Homo sapiens: one gene and its partners. The protein of the gene in region 1 purifies or fractionates together with the protein of each later gene. This does not show direct contact. Each region holds a gene or a part of one and is shown on either strand. Other genes may lie near its edges. The genes, in order: PTTG1IP, SLTM and NSDHL.

The links.
Region 2: the proteins of PTTG1IP (region 1) and SLTM fractionate together in Homo sapiens (co-fractionation; one large-scale study listed by BioGRID). This does not show direct contact.
Region 3: the proteins of PTTG1IP (region 1) and NSDHL fractionate together in Homo sapiens (co-fractionation; one large-scale study listed by BioGRID). This does not show direct contact.

The regions. Positions count from the first base shown.
Region 1 is NC_000021.9:44,863,665-44,867,314, reverse strand, and holds part of PTTG1IP (pituitary tumor-transforming gene 1 protein-interacting protein isoform 1 precursor), read left to right. Parts: intron 1-1,867; coding exon 1,868-1,920; intron 1,921-1,926; exon of another isoform or gene 1,927-3,347; intron 3,348-3,445; exon of another isoform or gene 3,446-3,522; intron 3,523-3,650. UniProt on the Homo sapiens protein: May facilitate PTTG1 nuclear translocation.
Region 2 is NC_000015.10:58,881,614-58,885,263, forward strand, and holds part of SLTM (SAFB-like transcription modulator), read right to left. Parts: intron 2,174-3,650; coding exon 2,013-2,173; intron 1-2,012. UniProt on the Homo sapiens protein: When overexpressed, acts as a general inhibitor of transcription that eventually leads to apoptosis.
Region 3 is NC_000023.11:152,858,464-152,862,113, reverse strand, and holds part of NSDHL (sterol-4-alpha-carboxylate 3-dehydrogenase, decarboxylating), read right to left. Parts: intron 3,345-3,650; coding exon 3,198-3,344; intron 1-3,197. UniProt on the Homo sapiens protein: Catalyzes the NAD(P)(+)-dependent oxidative decarboxylation of the C4 methyl groups of 4-alpha-carboxysterols in post-squalene cholesterol biosynthesis. Also plays a role in the regulation of the endocytic trafficking of EGFR.

The DNA of each region.
Region 1 (3,650 bases):
TGATGTGCTTCAGACTCATCCATGTTTTACATAGAGCAGTTCGTTTCTTTTTATCGCTGAACAGTGTTAGTGATTGCACAGCCGCCTAGCTCACCTCCAAAGGAGAGACACGTAAAACAGCCTTTTGTGTTTGGAATGCCTTTTCCAGAAGATCCCTTGATACGAGAGCCGCATGTTTGCTATTCTTGATGCCCTGCTGGTATCGTGTGAGTGTTCCAGTCTGTCTGTCCACCCTCCTACAGAGTGACATCTGGGCTGTGTTCAGCTTGGGGCTGTCACGGAGCCTTCCTGCGCAGGTCCATCTGTGGATGCAGGCGCCTTCTCTCCTGGATGAAATACTAAGAGTGGAATTGCTGAGTCATAGGTGGTCGCATGTTTGTTTAGGAGCAGCTGCCAGACCTTCTTTGCAAATGGTTGAGCCATTTACACTTCCACCAACACTGTGTGAGAGTTCTGTTGCTGTACATCCTTGCCAACATTTGGTATTGTCATTCTCTTTAATTTTAGCCATTCTGGTAGGTGTGTAGTCATCTGTCATTTGGAGTTTTAATTTGCCTTTGTCTGGTGACTGGTGATGAGCACAGAGCTCTTTTCAGCGTGCACTGTGTTTGTGTGTGTGTGTGTGTGTGTGTGTTATGGGATTGGAGTAGGCAGTCTGTGTGTGTGTGTGTGTGTGTGTTACGGGATTGGGGGAGTACGCAGTCTGTGTGTGTGTATGTGTGTTATGGGATTGGGGGAGTAGGCAGTCTGTGTGTGTGTTACGGGATTGGGGGAGTAGGCAGTCTGCGTGTGTGTTACGGGATTGGGGGAGTAGGCAGTCTGCGTGTGTGTGTGTGTGTGTGTTATGGGATTGGGGGAGTAGGCACTCTGTGTGTGTGTGTGTGTGTGTGTTATGGGATTGGAGTAGGCAGTCTCTGTGTGTGTGTGTGTGTGTGTGTGTTATGGGATTGGAGTAGGCAGTCTGTGTGTGTGTGTGTGTGTTATGGGATTGGGGGAGTAGGCAGTCTGTGTGTGTGTTACGGGATTGGGGGAGTAGGCAGTCTGCGTGTGTGTGTGTGTGTTATGGGATTGGGGGAGTAGGCTGTGTGTGTGTGTGTGTGTGTGTTACAGGATTGGGGGAGTAGGCAGTCAGCTTGGTTGCATGTTGGAAGTTACTCATGCAGTCGCTCTTGCTTCTGACTGGCTTGAGTTCCAGAGCTGTTGGCTGCGTGGAGTTTGACCCCTTCCTTAGTAGCAGCGCTTTGAGTAGTGGGCAGAGTCTCAGGGTGTTCTGTGTGGTTGGAGCAGGCTGGTGTGCCGGGCCTCTCCCTTGGTACAGGTTGGTACAGGGAGCATAGCCCAGTCTGGAGTGAGGCTACCAGGGGACTAAGACCTTGCTTTGTCACATGAGATCTGTAGGTGAGTCCAAAGACACAAGTGTGCTGCGTGGCAGTGTCGCTGGCGTTGCTGTGGCCTCGGATGGAGGCTCTTGGGTTCCCAAAAGAGTGCCTGCTGATGAGCAGAAGGTCCCAGCAGGTTTGTGGTTAGTGATTACACAGCCACAGGGCACACTTCCTCTCACAGAGAGATCTGAAACACAGCCTTCTGTGTTGGCACTCTTCTCTCCCAGAAGAGCCCTTGTGGATAGGAGCCGCATGTTTATACTCTTTGTGCCCTGCCTGCAGCGGGGTTCCTGAACACTCGTTCCACATGTCTTGAAGAAGGCTTGTTATCAGCAGGGGCTCAGGAAGAGGACCTTCATTTGGTAATTCCACATCAGAGGTTCTTGGTGCCACACCCCTCACTGGTGCCCACCCTGCCCTGCTGGACTAATATTTACACTGCCTGATTCTCAGTGACTGACTTGTCTCTTGCCTCTTTCCTGCAGCTTGTTCTCAGAACACAAACAAAACCTGTGAAGAGTGCCTGAAGAACGTCTCCGTAAGTAGCACGTGGACTAGAGACCAGAGTGCCGTCCAGACCGTCCAAAGGCACACGGGCTTTCTCTAGGTCCAGGGATTCGCTGGGATGTGTGGAGGGCTCTGTTGTTTGGGATTTGGGGGGATGTTTTTTGGAATCGTTATCAAATGTTATTTTAGCCATTTCAGGTATATTAAACCTTCTCATGAAAACTGCAGTTACTGTCTGAGCATGGTCAGTATCCATGATTTCACTCCTATGCAGATGGGGCCAGCACTGCGTGGCCAGTCTTCCTAACGAGGCCCATAGCGAGAAATTTGGCTGTCCGCAAAGCTACACCCTCAGGTTGTGAGCCCGTGTTTTCCCAGGCTGTCGGGCTGCAGCAGAGACTGCTTTCTCAGCTGCTCACACAGGATTGGAAGGGGCACAGCAAGGAGAGAGAGGCACCAGCCCTCTGGGCCGGTGGGCCAGGCTGTCCATAGCACTCTCTGGTCGTGACCTGGGGCTCAGGTTTGGATTTTAACTACCTGTGTGACCTTCAACAAGAGGGTAGCGGTCTGGAGCAAAGTTCCCTAAGCCTCCACGGCATGAGGTGGGGCCCGAGACTCCCCGGGGTGCCTTCCCGATGGAGACTGATGCAGATGCCCACCTGGAAGAAGGAGCACCCGTGGTGGGGAAGCAGCATCACAGTGCAGGTCTTGTTAAAGACGTGTGAACAGGGCTGGGTGCAGTGGCTCACGCCTGTAATCCCAGCACTTTGGGAGGCCGAGGCAGGTGGATCACGAGGTCAGCAGTTGGAGACCAGCCTGACCAACATGGTGAAACCCCGTCTCTACTAAAAATACAAAACAATTAGCTAGGCGTGGTGGCGGGTGCCTGTAATCCCAGCTACTTGAGAGGCTGAGGCAGGAGAATTTCTTGAAACCGGAAGTCGGAGGTTGCAGTGAGCCAAGATTGTGCCACTGCACTCTAGCCTGGGCAACAAGAGCAAAAAACTGTCTTTAAAAAACAAAAACAAAAACAAAAACGTGTGAACAGGGTCCTTTGGTTTTCTCTGCGTGGTGGCCTGCGCCTGGGCCAGCCTGGCTGGCACCTCTTGGGCTTGCCTTGCCACGCAGCTCTTGGTTCGGCAGCACCCAAGTCTCCTCGCAGCGCTATGAAATCAGCACGGGAAACCTGAGGGAAGGCCCACGGCAGCGGGAAGTGGTTAGGCAGAAAACAGCATCCTGTGGGGCCTTTTTCTTAGGATTCCTGATCTCGCCCACCCCTTGCCCCTTCCAGTCAGGAGTTTACCAGGTTTTGAGAACTGCAGGGCCAGAGGCTTCCTTTCCCCGGCAATGAGGTTTCATGATATGAGGAGGCCGGGAAAGATGTATTCGATGATTTCTATTCTAAGGCATGAGCCATGTTCTTAAAAACTCTTCTTCCTCCACGAGACCGTAGCGTAGGTTTGAGGAGGCCGGGAAAGATGTATTCGATGATTTCTATTCTAAGGCATGAGCCATGTTCTTAAAAACTCTTCTTCCTCCACGAGACCGTAGCGTAGGTTCGAGACACACCCTGTCAGTTTGTGGGACTTAAGTGGATACTTGCATTTGCTGATTAAAAATTGAAAGACGCTGTTTCTGTGGTTTCAGATCTTGACATTGGTGATGTTGAACCTGCTCTAATGCGCCTGGTCCTGGTGCATTTTCTAGATGGTGCTTCTTTTTAGTCTCTGGATTTTTCTATTGGAAGTCATTTCAGCTTTA
Region 2 (3,650 bases), on another chromosome or scaffold:
ACCTGGAGCAGCTGCTTGTTGTGGTTTTAGAGCAATAAATGGTATAATAAAATGGGAGTTTCAACAGTTCAATTTACAAATGGGGTAATGGAACACAATAATTGGGAAGATCAGATAGAAGCTAAAATGAGGAATAAGGGATAGCTATGATAAACTTTCTTTTTGTAGAGACAGGGTTTTACCATGTTGCCCAGGCTGGTCTCAAACTCCTCAGTTCAAGTGATCTACCTACCTTGGCCTCCCAAAGTACTGGGATTACAGGCATGAGCCACTGTGCCCAGCCTGAGAAACATTTAAAAAAAAATAGAGCCACACGGCCGGGCGCAGTGGCTCATGCCTGTAATCCTAGCACTTTAGAAGGCTGAGGTGGGCAGATCACAAGGTCAGGAGTTCAAGACCAGCCTGGCCAACATGGTGAAACCCCATTTGCTAAAAATACAAAAATTAGCTGGGCGTGGTGGTGCACGCCTGTATTCCCAGCTATTCACTTGAACCCAGGAGGCAGAGGTTGCAGCGAGCCGAGACTGCACCACTACACTCCAGCCTGGACAGAGCAAGACTCTGTCTCAAAAAAAAAAAACCACACTTAGAAATTTATACTAGGAATGAAGAAAGGTAAGGACAAGCCCCGTATTTCCAGTCAGGGTGAATGAAATGGATGGTGGCACTATCAAATTGAAAGAAACTGGAGGCAACAAAAGGGACACAAAGGTTTGAAAAAGGAGAGGAATGAGTTTGACTGTGACCTTGAATTCATGGAAACAGCAAAGCACTTACATGGCAGTGGCAACATGAAGCTGAAAGGAAACAGCAGTGTCTAAAGCTTAGCCACGGGAAGGAGCCTGCAAAGGCAGTCACAAAGGCAGAAAGAAAATGATGGTGCCCTAGAAAACAGACTCCCTCAAAATAAAGATAAGTGACCGTGTGAAACAGTGTTTAACCACCAAGGAGTCTGACAACCATGAAAATAAAAGAATCTATATTTATCAAGAGAAAAGTCATCGGTGACCTTTACAAACCAGATACAATGAATGTTGAGCTTGTGCAGGCAGAAGTAGCACACTTACTGAAGTTTGATGGTAGAAGTGACCATGGAATAGTAGTGACCTGGGTCACTGAGTCAAGCCAATAACTCTCCTAAGAAAGAGGAATGGGAAAGAAAGGAGGACATGAAAGAGATGGGGAAGCTGAAGACCTGCTGGCTGAAGGGCCACATCCGACCTCAGTGTGAAGAGAAAGTAAAGCTCGCCTCTTAACGTATGAAGAGATTTTGTGTTAAATGTCTAAAAGCCTTCCCAAGAGTTATTTTAAAAGGGAGGAAACAGAACACACTTTCAGTATTTTCTTCCTAAGAATTTGAGGAATGCTAGGTAGAGAACAAGATGATGGTTCCAATGTGAGGTTAAGATTCATTATCTAGACTGAGTGCAGTGGCTCCCGCCTGTAATCTCAGCACTTTGGGAGGCCAAGGCAGGCGGATCCCCTGAGGTCAGGAGTTCGAGACCTGCCTGGGCAACATGGTGAAACCCTGTCTCTACTAAAAATATAAAAATTAGCTGGGCATGGTGGCACATGCCTGTAATCCCAGCTACTTGGGAGGCTGAGATGAGAGAATTGCTTGAACCCAGGAGGCGGAGGTTGCAGTGAGCCAAGACCTCGCCACTGCAGTCCAGCATGGGCGACAGAGTGAGACTCCATCTCAAAAAACAAAAAACAAAACAAAACAAAAGAATTCATTGTTTACTGGATCCTGCCATACGTACATACCCATATCTATATCAACTTGCCAGAACGTCACTGAATTCATTTAAAAGGAAGAATACAAACTAACACATTAATATCAGCTGTTCTGCAAACACTCTTTTGGAGACTACGGGTTGATACAGGGAAATGTTCAGGCAGATCTAGGGTTTTCAGTAGTTGCAATTCAGTCTCTCAGAAACTATAATGACTTTTATGGAAAGGATAAAGTGTTGGTTGTGTGCTGGCAGAAAAACTGGTTAGTTATTTACCTTGAATGTTGGGTTATCATGCCTGCTCCTGCCCGGCCGTCACCCATTCGCCTCGTATCATGATAGCTAGGCCCTTGAGAGGGTGGACCATGCCACTCTTTCCTTGGTCCGCTTGTGTCCCGTCCATGGCGTTCAACCACATGTCGCTCCTCAGGATAGTGCTAAAAGAATAGCATATGAAAAGTCACTTGGCCGGGCGCAGTGGCTCATACCTATAATCTCAGCACTTTGGGAGGCTGAGGCAGGCGGATCACCTGAGGTCAGGAGTTCGAGACCAGCCTGGCTAACATGGTGCAACCCCGTTTCTACTAAAAATACAAAAAATTAGTCAGGCATGGTACCCCACACCTATAATCCCAGCTACTCAGGAGGCTGGGGCAGGAGAATCACTTGAACCCGGGAGGCAGAGGTTGCAGTGAGCTGAGATTGCGCCATTGCACTCCAGCTTGGGCAACAAGAGTGAAACCCCATCTCAAAAAAAAAAAAAAGGAGAAGTCACAATACCCTCAGTCTTGGTCTCATACCAACTTATATTGGTGTGCTTTTAATGTCAGAAGCAAATTAATAAGATGTCTGAGAAGATAAAAGGATGAGTAGTGCAGCAGCATATGAAAAGAGTTTATATCTATTTTGTAGTGAGAAGCTACTCAGGTCTCAGGGAAGGGTATGGAGGAAATGATTTAATACTTTTGTTGTTGTTGTTTTGTTTTTTGAGACAGAGTCTCGCTCTGTTGCCAGGCTGGAATGCAGTGGCGCGATCTCGGCTCACTGCAACCTCCGCCCCCCGGATTCAAGCGATTCTCCTGCCTCGGCCTCCCAAGTAGCTGGGACTACAGGTATGCACCAGCACGCCCAGCTAATTTTTGTATTTTTAGTGGAGACGGGGTTTCACCATGTTGGCCAGGATGGTCTTGATCTCTTGACTTCATGATCCGCCCGCCTAGGCCTCCCAAAGTGCTGGGATTACAGGTGTGAGCCACCACACCTGGCCAATTCCTTTTTTTAAAAAATAATTTTTTTTTTTGGAGACATGATCACACTGTTGCCCAGGTTGGAGTACAGTGTTGCTACCGTAACTCACTGCAACTTTGAACTCCTGGGGCTCAAGCAATTCTCCTGCTTCAGCCTCCTGCCTAGCTGGGACTACAGGGTGCACACCACCATGCCCATCTTTAATTTTAATTTTCCTATGGAGATGGGGGTCTCACTATATTGTCCAAGCTCGTCTCGAACCCTTGGCCTCAAGTAATCCTCCCGCCTTGGCCTCCAAAAGTGCTAGGTTTACAGCCACGAGCCACCAGGCCTGGCCATTAATTTGTATTTCTGTATTTTCTAGCACCCAAGGGCTTTTTGACCCTTGATTATTTCAAATACTTGGATCTTATATTGACTGTAAGAAGGCACAGCCAGAGATCAAAACCTTAAGACAAGGCACGGCAGGGCCTATGATCAGCCTATCAGGACAACATGCAGACAGCACAGCAAACAGGAGTTGTGAACTTATTTTACATTGTACTACTTAGTGCTATGGCACTTACAAGGTGCTACATCCATAACTATGGAAAACAGAGTAGCAAACACAAAGAAACAGAAACTGTAGAACTAGAGATCTATGGAAAGAGAAAGCAAGCATTGTGA
Region 3 (3,650 bases), on another chromosome or scaffold:
TCTAAAGGAAGATATTCTCTTATGAGGGTCCCCAGCGTCCAGCCTGCTGGTTAAGAGAAGCTCATCCAACACTGAACACCATTAGCATGAATCATATCGTTCCCATTCTTATTCAACATTGTATGAGAAGCTCTAGCCAGAGTGGTAGGGTAAGATAAACACGAATTTATAATGATTTGAAAAGAAACTGAACTTCCATCGCTTACAGATGAGAGAAAAATCTACACAGAAAACACAGGCAAATATGTAGAAAATATTAGCGTTTGGCAAAGTTGCTGAATTAAAAATCAATATACAAAAATTAACTCGTCTTATATATTAGCAATAACTGAAAATGTAATAGAAAGTTATTAAATAACAAAAAACGAAGTACATACAAATAAATTTAACGAGATATGCAAAATCTTTACGAAGTAAAGTATAAAACTCTATTGATGACATTAAAGAGCGAGATAAACAGAAACATATCCCATATTTATGGACAGGAACACTCAATATGGGAAAGATGTCAATTCTCTCCAAAATTACCTACAAGTTCAACACAATTACAACAGCAGTCTCAGCTGGCTTTAGCAAGGAACTGGTTAAGCCAAACATATGTAGAAGAACAAAGGGCTCAGAATAGCCAAGTGAAGTTTGAAGAAATTGGTTGGGGGCGTGATTTATCTACGGTACACTGAGACTTATCCTAAAAAGGCAGAGCTTCTCTGCATGGGCAGACAGGGAGGTCAATGGGGCAGAGGGGAGAGCCTGGGAACAGGCCCATGTAAGACACAAACACCTAAGACATGCTGCAGATGGTGTGCAGCGATGCAGAAAGGATGGATTATGCAATAAATGGCACTGAACTGGTTATACACATGGAAGAAAGTTAGATCTCTATCTCACACCATAAGCAAACATAAATTCCTGGTGGATTAAAGACTGAAATGTGGAAAGCAACACTTAAAACCTTTGAGGAAAAAAAGTACATTAAATAATCTTTTGATCTCAGTGTTGGAAAATGTTCCTTCAATACAACACAGCAATCACTTTCTGCACTCTTACCCACTAAGCCACTCTGCCCCTTCAGTAAATAAACCAGAGTTACATATGCCAAGATGAATAAAGAAAAACATAACACTGGGGAAAAAAGCAAGTTGCAGGAGGATCTGTTCAATAAGATATCATTGTATAAAATCTTATAACATGCAATCCAATACTTTATATTGCTTACACATGGAGCAAATGGAAATAAACCCAAATTCAGAATTGCTATCCATGGCTACAAGAAGAGAGCAATGGCATCGAGGATGGGCACACATTACACATGCCAGTAATGTTGTTTCTTAAATGCTGTGGTGAGTGGAGAGGTGCTGTTTTATTCTCAAATCTTGTTGTTTTTTTAATTTTTTTTTTAAGAGACAAGGTCTTGCTCTGTTGCCTAGGCTGGGGTGTAGTGTTGGGATCACAGCTCACTGCAGCCTGAAAATCCTGGGCTCAAGCGATCCTCCTGCCTCAGCGTCCCGAAACAGTTGAGGCTACAGGTGCATACCACCACACCTGGCTTTTAAAAATTCGTGTAGAGGTGGGGTATTGCTATGTTGCTCAGGCTGGTCTTGAACTCCTTGGCTCAAGGGATCTTCCTGCCTTGGCCTCCCAAAGCGCTGGGATTACATGTGTGAGCCGCCACACCTGGGGCACAAATCTTTGTTGTATGCCCCCAACCTTCCATTTAACAAAGAGCAGCAGGGCCCTTCCCAGGGCTCCAGTTACATCAGCATGGCTGAGTGCAGAGTCTGGGACTTGGAGAATCTGCTTTGACCCCACCTCTCCCATTTACTAGCAAAGAGACATCGTTTAGCCCCTGGTCACCCAACGAGGAGCTAATTAGGTGAAAACTTCAGCAGGGCAAAGCATCTTGTCAACTGCTAGGGGTCAGTTATAAGTGATCTTTTCCAGGGCCCAAGCCCAGAAGAGCTCCAACCCTGCTGGGCCGGCTGAGGATGCTGCGGACCAGCCAACAGTGCCAGGACAGGTTGTTGGGAGAGGAACCCCCTGGCTTGCTTCAAGTTTTTCTCTTAATTTATGCAGTACCTGTGGCATGCATCCCTGTGAGGGTCAGGATACTGAGCTGACAGGGAGCCGTTTTAGCCAGTGGCTGGAGTCCTCTAAAGACAATTCTAAGAACCAGGATTGGTAACGATGCAGCAAGCTATGATGGGCAGAAAATTCGTATCCCCTCAGGCCTGAGTTATAACACGTTTCTATTGGCTAAGGGTAAACACAGTTTGCTTTTCTTTTAAAATATAAGCAAGGTCTGGAAAACAATGTGGTGGCTCCTCAAAAGGTTAAACGTAGAACTAGTATATGATCTAGCAACCCTACTTCTGGGTAGATGCCTGAAAGAATTGAAAACAGGGACTTGAACAGATATTTGTACACTTGTGTTCATAACACTATTGTTTACAATTGCCAAAAGGTGAAGACAACACAGATGTCCATCCATGGCTGAATGAATAAACAAAATGTGGCCCATCCATACAATGAAATATTGTTCTGCCTGAAAAAGGAAGGACATTCCGACACATGCTACAACATGGATGACCCCTGAGGACATCATGCTCGGTGAAAAGCCAGACACAAAAGGAGAAATACTACATGAGTCCACTTCTGTGAGGTCCCTATAGTTGTCAAACCCATAGAGACAGAAAGTAGAAGGGTAGTTGCCAGGGGCTGGGTAGGGAAGGGCGATTGAGGAGTTGCTGTTTAATGGGTATAGAGTTTTTATTAGGGAAGAAGAAAAAGGTTTAGAGATGGATGGTGGTAATGGCTATACAACATTGTGAGTGTACTTAATGCCACTGAACTCCGCACTTAAAAATGGTTAGGATGGTAAATTGTATGTGATATATATTTTATCACAATAAAAATATAAGCAATGTCTAAGTTCTGCAGCTCTTTAACTGAAGGCCAATAGGCTTGAGGTCCTCAGATGTTCTATTTGTGTGCAGTTAGAATATTACATCTCAAATCAGCCTTGGCAAGCAGACCTTCACCATCTCCAGTGACTCCAAGGGCTTCATTTCTAAGATCTTCCCAACACTTTAAGAAGCAACCCCGCCTAGGCCCAGGGAGACTGCAAGAACTACGGCCTTGCACCCTTAGAAAGGGCCATCACGTGCTCCTGACAGCACTCACTCCAGCCTTCCCCTTACCTGAACCCCAGCCTCTTTGCAAGTTTCAATGACATTCTTGGTGCCAATGTAATTCACTCTATAAAAGAGCTCCTTGTTGTTACTGGATGGTGGGGGTGACGCACAGTGGAAAACTGTGTTTACACCTTTCAGAGCTGGGTACAGATCCTGGAAAAGCAAAGAAAGACAAAATAATCATTCCTGCTTTGACAGGTCAATGGCATTCTCATGTTTTCACCCTCCAACCTGTGGCTTGTAGGTTCCTTGTCTTATAATTCTATAATCAATATGGAAATACATTCTCATAAAAGAATCAATGATACCGAAGTACATGGGATGGAAACCAAGTTGTCCCTTTAATCACCTTCTCCCCACTAACTAGTCCCCAGTCAAAAGGGGTTTGGGGCATGAGAAGCCTGTGGGATCCACACAGAGGCAACATCCTTTTGGGTGGTTCAGAGCAGGCACCTAGGA